2 linked regions of the Homo sapiens genome follow. The protein of the gene in region 1 interacts with the protein of each later gene in a biochemical or structural test. Each region holds a gene or a part of one and is shown in the gene's direction. Other genes may lie near its edges.

Region 1 (7,031 bases):
TGTGCTGGGCAATGCCAGGAATCTGGAGGGGAGTCAGACTGGGGCCTGCCAGCGGAGAACACAGGTGGTCCCAGCCCAGAGCCAGCAGACTACTGAGAGGAGCGGGGCAGGGGCTGGGGTACTCCAGATGAGGGAAGGAGGACCTGCCTGGGAGGTCACAGAGGGCTCTGTGAAGCCTGCTTATCAGAAAAGGCTGGAGGAGCAGTTTGTGCAAAAACTCAGGGGTGGGAGAACAAGTGTTAGGGTCCATATTCATTCATTCAAAGTGAGTCCCGGTGCAGTGGCTCACGCCTGTAATCCCAGCACTCTGGGAGGCTGAGGCAGGTGGATCACTTGAGGTCAGAAGTTCGAGACCAGCCTGGCCAACATGGTGAAACCCCATCTCTACTAAAAACACAAAAATTAGCTGGGCTTGGTGGCGCACGCCTGTAATCCCAGTTACTCGGAAGGCTGAGGCAGGAGAATCGCTTGAACCTGGAAGCCAAAATCGTGCCACTGCACTCTGGCCTGGGTGACAGAGCGAGACTCCCATCTCAACAAGAAAAAAAAAACCCAAAAACCAAAATGAGTCCCAGAAGCCCCTGCTTGGTGCCAGGCTGGAATGTGCAAGGCTGAGGATCCAGTCATTGAGCCCTGCCCTTGAAGGCTTCTCACTTTGATGAGGGATCAGAATTGTTGTAACAGTGCAGTGGAAGCCCCACAGGGTGGCCCGCAGAGAGCGAGGGGTCTTCAAGGTCCAAGAGAGGTTTTTCAGGCTGAACAGAGGCAGAGAACATGCTGGGCAGAGGAGACAAGGTCAGGTCAGCCTGTTGTCTGCCTGGAGTTGTAGGTGAGGCTGAGCTTACACAGGGGCAAGAAGTGGCAGGAAAAATGGGACTGGGGCATTAGGAACCACAGAAGGCTTTGGACTGAGCAAAGGCTAGCTCATATCTGAGGTCCATGAATTGGAGGGGAGACTGGATTGTACTCCATGGCCTGAGTGTGTTCAGAAGTTAGTTGTACCTGGTGTATTTGAGAAATTATTTGCCTTGGGGGATAGCGAGGCTGTGAGGTGGGTGGGCTCAGGTCAGAAGGGGCTTCCGGAGCCCAGGCTACACACTGGGCTCCATGCAGCTTCACAGAACCCTCATCTGTTATTCAGGAATCCAAACATCTCTAGAAGCTGAAAGTTCTTTTCTAGGTTCAGCACAAACTCATTTCGCTGCAGTCATCCTGAACTAATGTGAGGCTATTTGCGGACTTTTTTTTTTTTATCCCCTTAAGTGTGTCATGGTCTTAACTGCAGAAATATTAGTGGGTTTGATCATGGGGTGCTCCCCCAGGCCCTCCTGGGAGTTTATGTAACAATCTGTATGCCAGCCATTTGCCTCTCTAAAACCTGAAAGATTCAAAATTCTGAAGCCCATCCAGCTCCAGAGGCCTCCTCTTGTGAGCAGAGGGGAGTCACAGAAGGTTTGATGGGGGCAGGGGCAGGCTCTGTTGGGAGGGATGAAGTGTCAAGGGGAGGCTGCAGGTGGGGACTCCTGAGTAGGCTGGGGCCTCAGGAACAGAAGAGGGGATGGGCTGGTGCTATATCTGGGGCAGAAGGAACCAGATTTGGGTTATTATCTGCCTGGGAGAGCTTAAGGAGGGCATGAAAGAAAGGGAAAAAGACAAACAGTGTTGGATTTGCAACTGGTCTTAACAAAAAGAATTCACAAAGCATTTTATATTTTTAAAAATTCTGGCTTGTACTCATTTATAAACTAAAAAAAAATAACTATATGATGCAGGCAACGTGGTGAGACCCCATCCCTACAAAACATGAAAAAAATTATCCAGGTGTGGTGGCACATACCTGTAGTCGTAGATACTTGGGAGGCTGAGGTGGTAGGATCACTTGAGCCCAGGAGGTTCAGGCTGCAATGAGCCATGATTGCACCGCTGCACTCCAGTCTAGGTGGCAAATCAAGACCTTATCTCAAAAATAAAAATTTGGCTGAGTGCAGTGGCTCACGCCTGTAATCCCAGCACTTTGGGAGGCCAAGGTGGGCAGATCACGTGACATCAGGAGTTTGAGACCAGCCTGGCCAACATGGTAAAACCCCATCTGTACCAAAAAATACAAAAATTAGCTGGGCATGGTGGCGCACACCTGTAGCCCCAGCTACTCTAGAGGCTGAGGCAGGAGAATCCCTTGAACCTGGGAGGAAGGGGTTGAAGTGAGTCGAGATCATGCCACTGCACTCCAGCCTGGGGACAGAGCGAGACTCTGTCTCAAAAAATAAAAATAAAATAAAAATTCAACTATAGAAGGAAGACCCCAAGAGGATGACTCTCCATACCTAATAAGCACAAATTTAGTTTTTTTTTTAATCTTTGAATAGAGCACTTTGAAGAAAAAGTTAAGTAAACCTGCTATTGACTGTTAATGAACTACTACATTTTAAATCCTCTGAATCTCCTGTAGGCACCGTTTTATGAGTGTGACTTACCTAAACAGCATTTCACCAGCTTGAAAACAACCAAATTAAATGCAGAAGGGTCTTAACATGTATGTCTCAGAAAAATGGAGCTAATACATTCATTTGTGTCTGCATACCTTCCCTGTGGCTTAGGGCAGATTAAATAATCTCTCTGTGCCTTAGTCTCCTCACCTGTAAAATGGGGCCAAAAATAGGACCTACCCCAGGATTCAGTGACTCAGTATTTGTCACGTGCTACCTGGCATGTAGGAAGTCCCATGTAAGTGTCAACCTGCTACTGTTGTGTTTTTTTTTTTTTTTTTTTTGATCATTCTTGGGTGTTTCTCACAGAGGGGGATTTGGCAGGGTCATAGGACAATAGTGAAGGGAAGGTCAGCAGATAAACAAGTGAACAAAGGTCTCTGGCTTTCCTAGGCAGAGGACCCTGCGGCCTTCCGCAGTGTTTGTGTCCCTGGGTACTTGAGATTAGGGAGTGGTGATGACTCTTAATGAGCATGCTGCCTTCAAGCATCTGTTTAACAAAGCACATCTTGCACCGCCCTTAATCCATTTAACCCTGAGTGGACACAACACATGTTTCAGAGAGCACAGGGTTGAGGGTAAGGTCATAGATTAACAGCATCCCAAGGCAGAAGAATTTTTCTTAGTACAGAACAAAATGAAGTCTCCCATGTCTACTTCTTTCTACACAGACACAGCAACAATCTGATTTCTCTATCTTTTCCCCACCTTTCCCCCTTTTCTATTCCACAAAACCGCCATCGTCATCATGGCCCGTTCTCAATGAGCTGTTGGGTACACCTCCCAGACGGGGTGGTGGCCAGGCAGAGGGGCTCCTCACTTCCCAGAAGGGGCGGCCGGGCAGAGGCGCCCCCCACCTCCCGGACGGGGCGGCGGCCGGGCGGAGGCGCCCCCCACCTCCCTCCTGGAGGGGCGGCTGGCCGGGCGGGGGCTGACCCCCCCACCTCCCTCCCGGATGGGGCGGCTGGCCCCCCACCTCCCCCCCGACGGGGCGGCTGGCCCCCCACCTCCCTCCCGGACGGGAACCTGCTACTGTTGTTAGAGCTAGGAAAATCCTTTTCCTGGAATGTTAGTGGCTTAAGGAACCATGATTATAGTGTTGTAGTCTTTAAAATGTGTTTGCTTTGAGATTTTCCCCTTAAATGGTGGGTATTTTCCTAATGAGAAACTGCCTTTGATTCTTAAAGGAGAAAGTTCTGATTTTTCATTCCTTTCTGAATTGAGACATTTCTTCCCCAAGAGGGAGGGGAATTCTGGGTACTGTGGTTCATGCCTGTAATCCCAGCACTTTGGGAGGCTGAGGTGGGTGGATCACTCGAGGTCAGGAGTTCGAGACCATCCTGGCCAACGTGATGAAACCTCGTATGTACTTAAAAAACAAAACAACACAAAAAACACAAAATTAGCCAGGCGTGGTGGCACATGCCTGTAATCGCAGTTACTGGGGAGGCTGAGGCAGGAGACTCGCTCGAACCCTGGGAGGTGGAGGTTGCAGTGAGCCAAGATCACGCCACTGCACTCTATCCTGGGTGACAGAGTGAGATCTTGTCTAAAAAAAAAAAAAAGCGGCCAGGAGTGGTGGCTAACGCCTGTAATTCCAGCACTTTCAGAGGCTGACGGGGGCAGAGCATGAGGTCAGGAGATCGAGACCATCCTGGCCAACATGGTGAAACCGTGTCTCTACTAAAATACAAAAAGTTGGCGGGGCATGGTGGTGTGCACCTGTAATCCCAGCTACTAGGGAGGCTGAGGCAGGGGAGTCGCTCGAACCTGGAGGCAGAGATTGCAGTGAGCCGAGATGAGGCCACTGCACTCCAGCCTGGCGATGGAATGGACTCTGTCTCAAAAAAAAAAAGAGGGAGGGGAAGAAAGGGGGTACCCAGGTCTGCAGGGCAGGTGGCCAGACTGACTGGGTTCACTGGGGCCTTCCTGAGCTGGGAGAGAATGGGCTGGGAACAAGACCATGAGGCCCACTAGAGTGAGTATTTTAGTAAATGCCAATGGCTGTTGCCTCCTGAACGCCCTCCCCACTTCCCTTGGGCCTGTTTGTCTGAGGCCCGATTTGTCCCCTAGGTACCTCATGGCAGGGCCAGGTTCCAGCAGTGAGGAGGATGAGGCCTCTCACAGCGGTGGCAGCGGAGATGAAGCCCCCAAGCTTCCTCAGAAGGTCTGATGCCCCCTGTCCAGTGGGGGAGGGTGTAGTGGGAGGATGACATGAGTCCGCTGTGGCACCCCAAACTTCCCACTCTTGCCTCTTGCAGGTACCCCCCCAACACACCCACACTGTTCCTGCCCTCCTCACCCACCCACTCTCCCTCCTTAGCAACCCCAGACCAAAACCAAGCCCACTCAGGCAGCTGGACCCAGCTCACCCCAGAAGCCCCCAACCCCTGAAGAGACCAAAGCAGCCTCACCAGTGCTCCAGGAAGATATAGACATTGAGGGGGTACAGTCAGGTCAGACTCTGAGGGAGGAGGGGCTGGGGCCTGGGCTCCTGAGTCTGAGGGAGGAGGGCCTGCGGCCTGGGCTCCTGAGTCTGAGGGAGGAGGGGCTGGGGCCTGGACTCCTGAGTCTGAGGGAAGAGAGCCTGGGGACCTGGACTCCTGGGTCTGAGGGATGAGGGGCTGGGGGCCTGGACTCCTGGGTCTGAGGGAGGAGGGGCTGGGGGCCTGGGCTTCTGGGTCTGAGGGAGGAGGGGCTGGGGGCTGGACTCCTGTGTCTGAGGGAGGAAGGGCTGAGTCCTGGACTCCTGGGTCTGAGGGAGGAGGGGCTGGGGCCTGGACTCCTGGATCAGAGGGAGGAGGGGCTGGGGGCCCAGACGACTGGATCTGGAGGGCAGTTGAGGCTGGGGGCATGAGATGCCTGGGTCTGTGCCATACTGGGAGAGCTGCCAGTCTTCCCAGGAGACAAGGCAGCCTTGCATTGACTGAGCTTCTACTTGCAGAAGGACAGGACAATGGGGCGGAAGATTCTGGGGACACAGAGGATGAGCTGAGGAGGTAGGGCTGGGGCTGGGGGTTGGGGTGTCCCTGGCCTTGGGTGTAGGGGAGGCTGCTCTGCATGCTCACTCTCTACTCCTCTTGGCACCCCCAGGGTGGCAGAGCAGAAGGAACACAGACTGCCCCCTGGCCAGGAGGAGAATGGGGAAGACCCGTATGCAGGCTCCACGGATGAGAACACGGACAGTGAGGAACACCAGGAGCCTCCTGATCTGCCAGTCCCTGAGCTCCCAGGTGGGAAATCCCCCCATCCCTCCTGAAGTGGCATTTTCTCTTCTCAGTTCTCAGCTGGGACTTGCCCTGGCCAGCCCTGGGGTCACTGCTGCCCCCGTGTCTTGCCTCCCCTCTCCTTCCTCAACCCACTCCCTGCCTCAGCACCTTCAGGTTCTGCCAGGCTTGTTCCTTTCCTTTCAGCATCCTCTCTGTGACTTGCCTTTTTCTCCCCTCCAGATTTCTTGTTCTGACCACTCCCCTCGCAGCCATGTGCCAGGTGTGACCTCCTTTTTTTCACGTCAGGGGTGAGGGCCCCACCCTCATGCTAGTGCTTCACTTGCTCAGGTGCCGTTCTGTTGGTCTGGGGTGAAGCCGGGCACACCAGGTGACAGGGGCACTGCTCTCTGTCAGGCCCTGGGTGGGTGCACACCAGTGTCTGCTTTAACATCAGCCATCACTCTGGACGTGGATGCTGTCTGCACACATTGTGTGTTTGCATTTCCAGTGTAAAAGAATAAGAACAAAAGGAAATGGGGAAACTCTGCAGGGAGTTGTGGGATGAGGGGCAGGGAGGCAGAGCTTCTTCGAGAATGAAGGGAGCAGAGGAAAGACAGTCACGGGCTGTGCAGAGGTGTGGTTCTGGGGCTTCCAGAAGAGCCGTTTCCACCCAGTTCCTCGTGGGTGATGGGCAGGAAGATGCTTTGATTCTCCCAAGCCCCTAAAGTGGCATCAGCAAATTGATGGCCTAGAGAGTCACCTTAAAATGGAAAGAAGGAGCCACCCCAAAGGTCAGAACAAGAAAGGCACTGGTTGGAAAGGAGAGCAAAGGTGAAGAAGTGGCAGATACTGACGTTTTCAGCCTGGACTAAGCTCATTAAGTGGCTCCAGGCAGGCCAGGCGTGGTGGCTCACCCCGTACTTTGAGAGGCCGAGGTGGGAGGACTGCTTGAGTCCAAGAGTTCAAGACCAGCCTGGGCAACATAGTGAGACCCCCCCCGACCCCCGCCTTTACAAAACATTTTAAAAATTAGCCGAGCGTGGTGGTGTGCTACTCAGTAGTCCTGGCTACTCAGGAGGCTGAGGTGGGAGGATTGCTTGAGCCCAAGAGTTTGAGACCAGCCTGAGCAACATGTCAATACCCCGTCTCTCTACAAAAAGTTTAAAAATTAGTCTGGCTTGGTGGCATGCACCTGTAGTCCCAGCTACTGGGGAGGCTGAGATGGGAGAATCACTTGAGCCCAGGAGGCAGAGGTTGCAGTGAGGCAAGATCACGCCACTGCACTCCAGCCTGGGCGACAGAGTGAGTCCTTGTCTTAAAAAAAAAAAAGAGAGAG
Region 2 (5,544 bases), on another chromosome or scaffold:
GGTTTTGTCATATTGGCCAGGCTGGTCTTGAACTCCTGGCCTCAAATGATCCACCTGCCTTGGCCCCCCAAAGTACTGGGATTACAGGTGTGAGCCACTGCACCCAGGTTTTTTCCCCCCCATTTTTATAAATGAATTTTTTTATTCATTTTTTGTTTTCGTTTTTGTTTTAAGAGATGGGAGTCTCACCCTCTCTCCCAGTCTGGAGTACAGTGTCAAGATCATAGCTCACTGCGGCCTTGAACTCCTCGGCTCCAGGTATCCTTTTGCCTCAGCCTCCCGAGTAGCTGGGGCTATGGGTGTGCCACCATGCCTGGCTGATTAAAACAATTTTTTAGAGATGAGGGTCTCACTATGTTGCTCAGGCCAATGTTGAACTCCTGACCTCAAGTGATCCACCTGCATCAGCCTCCTGAGTAGCTGGGATTACAGGTATGAGCCACGTGCTTGGGTCATTTTTATAAATTGATATGAAACTTTTATCAATTAAAATTCTGGTAATTTATTTTTATCTCTTAAGTGAAAATGTACCTTGACTTTTTTATTTTTTAACGGTTTAAAACATGTGCAGTAGAAATTCTCTGTTAATACATAAATGGAAATTACATTTTTTTTCATATTGGCGTGTATCTACAAATATTAAAGGACAAGAAAAGGTAATATAATTTTAGGTTTAACAAATATGGTGTATATTCAAATAATACTTGACCAGCTTATCTAAATTGTACATAATATTTGGACTAGCATATGAATTTGATTTTAATTATTATGTTCACAAGCCTGGGATAATTAGATGTTATTTTGCATCTGTAACTGTAATCATTTCTTGTAATTTCTTGTGCAGGTGTATTGTACTTAATAGATTTTACTTTTGGAAATATGACTGTTGAAATTAGCTTAGCTTTTATTTACTGTTTGTAGAGTATTTTCGTTTTGGAGAAGAACACTGTTTTAGTTTAGGACGCTTTTCAAGAGTGAAAGCTTCTGATGATTTTTTTCCCTCATAGGAAGAAATACTGGAAAGAAAATGTTAGTATAATGCAGTTATTGTAACAGCTTATGACTTGATTTTGATTTGGAAACCTATACTGACCAGATATTAAGCTTAAGGATTGTATAAATCATTAAAGCTGTGGTCTTTTCATATGGAGGTTGATAGATAATTTTTTTGTCTTGAGTCTTATTTGGTGACTTTCTATTCATGTAATTCATCATGTGTGAGTGAGGTTGTTGAACAAACTGAACACATGGGCTACAGCAAGTAGTTTTTATTTTTTTTTATTATACTCAAGTTCTAGGGTCCATGTGCACAACAGGCAGGTTTGATACATAGGTATACATGTGCCATGTTGGTTTGCTGCGCCCATCAACTCATCATTTACATTAGGTATTTCTCTTAATGTTGTCCCTCCCCGAGCCCCCCACCCCCCTGACAGGCCCCGGTATGTGATGTTCCCTGCCCTGTGTCCAAGTGATCTCATTGTTTAGTTCCCACCTATGAGTGAGAACATGCAGTGTTTGGTTTTCTGTCCTTGTGATAGTTTATAGCAAGTAGTTTTACAGTACAGATCTTTCCATTACATTTTATTGTTTAAACAAAACAAAATTTGTTTTTCTGTTAGGAATAAGAAAAAAATGGTTTTTACATAGGTTCTTACGGTACGCTTGGAGTACACTTACAGGCCACTGCTGCAGTCTACATTTTATTGTGCTGAATCTGCATTCTATCAGATACCCATGGAAAGACCTCAGTATATGCTTTGCACTCTGCTTTGCTCCCCTTTTCCAATTTCCTATTGCAAATCATTTTGATGTAATACAGAAAAAACAGCATTTAAATATCTACATGAAGAGTTGACCCACTAATGTCAGCCGACCTCTACTTTGTCAGCTCATAGTTAAATCTTTTATCATTTCAAAAATAAAGTGCATTTTCTTTTTCTTTTTCTTCTTTTTTTAGTGATGGAGTCTAACTTTGTCACCCAGGTTGGAGTGCAGTAGCATGATCTCAGCTCACTGCAACCTCCACCTCCTAGGTTCAAGTGATTCTCCTGCCTCAGCCTCCCAAGTAGCTGGGATTACAGGCACCTGCCACCACGCCCAGTTAGTTTTTTGTATTTTTAGTAGTTAGTTTCACCATGTTGGGCAGGCTGTTCTTGAACTCCTGACCTCAAGTGATCCACCTGCCTCGGCCTCCCAAAGTGCTGGGATTACAGGCGTGAGCCGCCGCACCTGGTTGCATTTTCAAAAGAATGAATTTAAGAATAATAAAATTAAAATAGGCCCACTTTTAAATTGTGGTCCATTTTATAATTCAATTTTTATTGTTAACAAAAAAAAAGAGTATAAATCAGATAGTAGCACTCTTCGGCTGAAAATCCTTCAATGGCTTCCCAGTAGATTCAGAATAGAATGCAAACCCTTTGTCACCTTTAAGAGGCTTTATGACCTGGCTCCTGCCTCGTTTCTGCTGCTTGGCTCCAACAATTCAGGCCATACATTTGGGCCATATTACCTTCTTTCTCTTTCTTGGTTGCACTGAGCTTTTCCTCATCTCAGGGCCCCTGCTCTTGGCCTCCTCACTTTCTGAGACACTCTTCCCACAGACCTAGCTTGCTTGGGTGCTGTCTCCGTTCAAATCACTTCCCGGGAGATGCTTTCCCTGAACACTGTTAACTAAAGAGGGCAGCTTCTACCCCTGGGCACTCTATCCCATTTTCCTTGTTTATTTTTTCTTGGCAATGTTAATTCTTTAAGTTTTTTTTTGTTTGTTTATTTGTTTGCTTATTTATTATTTGTCTTTCCTCATTAGCGTACAATTTCTATAAGGGCAGAGGCTTTTCCCATTTTGTTTCTTGCTAAAGTCTCAGTGCCTGGAACAGTGTTTGGCCATAGTACATACTTATTGAGCATTAAATATTCTTAAGTAAATGAATGAATCAATTGAATTAAATGGACACACTATCACTTCAATAGTATGAATATTCAAAGAGTATTCAATAGTATGAATATACAATGTACTCATACTCTTTGTCATTTTGATTAAGCCATAGTTGTTAAAGAGTTTAATGCTCAGTTTTTTTTTCTTTCAACTAGCCATGTACATCTTCATGTGATCAGCCAGGATTTTGATTCTCCTTGCCTTAAAAACAAAAAACATTGGAATTCTTTCAATACAGAATACTTCCTAGAATCACAAGGTAAACAGTGTTCCTTGGTTTTCACATTTGTTTCATTTTCTGAGCTGTTCTTATATTTGATTTGGTTGTTTCCCTGAATAACAGTCTGACCTCAAAAACCTATGTACAACTTTGTGTTCCCTATAAAGCGAGCCCTGTGAAAAGAAACTGGATTATTTGGATTGTAGTATTATTGCCACTTTGCTGTGAGTTGTCTTCTTGGGGGACCTAGAAAGCTATTATGTCAGGGTCAGTGTTTTATTGTGACAAAAGGGGACTTAAAGGCTGCCGTGAGAATTAGTGGAGTTCATGGATAAGAAAGCTGTGGACAATTCTTTGTCTCTTCTGCCATCAGTTGGGTGGGAGCTTTGGGGCTGCCTCCTGTCAGGAGTGGTGAATTAGCAGGGGGAACCCTGTGTATATGTAGAAGAAAGCATTTTCTGGTGTGTGATGCTTTCTTACACACCAGGAAAGCATTTCCTGGTGTGTAAGAACTTAAGCATTGATGGGGTGTTCACAATGGCAGCTGGCATTTACCAAGGGCCAACCAGAGGTAAAGCACTCTGATGAGCTCTTGACAGAGTAACATGGATTGCCTAGAGTGTGTCCTGAAGGAGTGTATTATTTCAAAGGTGGGTTGCTCATATTTATAATCTGATTAAGCTCATTTTGCCTGAGGGAAGTCTAAACTAAGCTTACGGAGCTGTAGAATACCTGGCCTGGCATACTGATTGGAGTCACGTTTTTGATTTTTTTTTTTTTTTTTTGGTATCTCATATTGGTTTTCCAGAGTAGCTGGGATTTGACTTTTCTTCCTTGCCTGCAGCTGTGATCGAGATGGTACAAGAGGCTGGTAGAGTAACTGTCCGAGATGGGATGCCTGAGCTCTTGAAGCTGCCCCTTCGTTGTCATGAGTGCCAGCAGCTGCTGCCTTCCATTCCTCAGCTGAAAGAACATCTCAGGAAGCACTGGACACAGTGATTCTGCAGAGCCTGAGCTGCTGCTGTGGTGTGGCCCACTGGAGCAAACTGCTGGCACCTATTCTGGGTTGCTTGTGAACTTCTACTCATTTCCTAAATTAAAACATGCAGCTTTTTCACAAATTTATTCTATTATTGAGTGGCCACAATGTAGAGTGGCTCAAAGTACTTCAGGATTAGGAATTTGGGTTTGTCATAGATGTATTCTCTGGTGAGGGTGGCTGGGATATACCTGACCCACCATCTTCAGAAGGACCCATGTCAGGTCTGACCATTGGGAGCAAAGCCATGTTCACACTGACCTAATGCAGAGTATGGAAGCATTGGGCTGGTTATACATTTCTGTTTCTTAGATTTATCCTCCGCCTCTGTAGGCATGGACAACCTTTAATCAGAGCATCTAGAGTGGCCTCTTGTTTATCCTGAAGATACTGATGGGTCTTGTTTTCTGTTAGTCTGTTTTGTAATATTCTTTTCCCTTCCTTCATGGGGAGGCTTAGTTTGTCCAGTCCTTCCATGCCCTTCTATCCCAGATTACCTAAATGTTCCCTTCTCAGGAATTCTGTCTCATCAGTTCTTCACAGTGAGAAAAGAGGCTAGATGATGGTGTGGGGGGTTGGAGTTTTCTTCTAATACCGAGGGTTCCTGGCTGTGAGGAAACAGCCACATGTTCGTCATGATTGAGCTGTGAAGTCTTCTTGGACCTGTTGTCTGAAAATAAAGTTAATTTGTTTGAGGCATCTCTCTTAAGTAGGTGGAAACTATTGAAGTTCAGCTAACAATCACAGCATAGGTTCTGATGCATGGAAAGGTGGTTGGTGAATGAAAAAGTTGCGTAGAGCCACTACTTTCTTTTTCCCTGAGAATAAATTTGGATAAAACAGTTGTATTCAGTTGTTTTTTGGGATAATATTAGAACTAAAGGTGAAGGGAAAACTAAAAAGTTGGGTTTGATGAAATTGTGGATATCTTTGGGGATGTGACTTTTCACTCAAGTTGTGAGAAAAAAGGAAACACCCTTAACAAAAGCTTCTTCTGGAGAGAAAAAGCCACAGTCCATAGAGACATTTGACCTCAATGTCTTTCACAAACAAACAAGATGCCACAGTGGTTACTTAGTGAACATAGGTATAGTAATAATTATATAATTAATGATCATAGCAGCTCACATTTGTCTGACTCCTGTGTGTCCTGCATTATGCTAAACACTGTACTCAAGTGATCTCATTGAATTCTCACTGTACATAACTCTATGAGGTTACGTGCTATTGTTATGCCCCTTTAGTGGATGAGCATCTAATATTCTACAATGGTTCCTGGGCACTATCCAAAGTTGGTATTGATTCTGATGCATCAACTCATTATTTTTCTTATCAATTGAACAG

What was found. The genes of interacting proteins can lie anywhere in the genome.
Region 2: the proteins of XRCC1 (region 1) and APTX form a complex in vitro, tested with the Homo sapiens proteins (2 studies listed by BioGRID).

The regions. Positions count from the first base shown.
Region 1 is NC_000019.10:43,544,506-43,551,536, reverse strand, and holds part of XRCC1 (DNA repair protein XRCC1), read left to right. Parts: intron 1-4,559; coding exon 4,560-4,653; intron 4,654-4,809; coding exon 4,810-4,942; intron 4,943-5,430; coding exon 5,431-5,485; intron 5,486-5,579; coding exon 5,580-5,719; intron 5,720-7,031. UniProt on the Homo sapiens protein: Scaffold protein involved in DNA single-strand break repair by mediating the assembly of DNA break repair protein complexes. Negatively regulates ADP-ribosyltransferase activity of PARP1 during base-excision repair in order to prevent excessive PARP1 activity.
Region 2 is NC_000009.12:32,972,114-32,977,657, reverse strand, and holds the end of APTX (aprataxin), read left to right. Parts: intron 1-455; exon of another isoform or gene 456-1,269; intron 1,270-3,096; coding exon 3,097-3,200; intron 3,201-3,969; coding exon of another isoform or gene 3,970-3,974; exon of another isoform or gene 3,975-4,005; coding exon 4,006-4,160; 3' UTR 4,161-5,042; downstream 5,043-5,544. UniProt on the Homo sapiens protein: DNA-binding protein involved in single-strand DNA break repair, double-strand DNA break repair and base excision repair.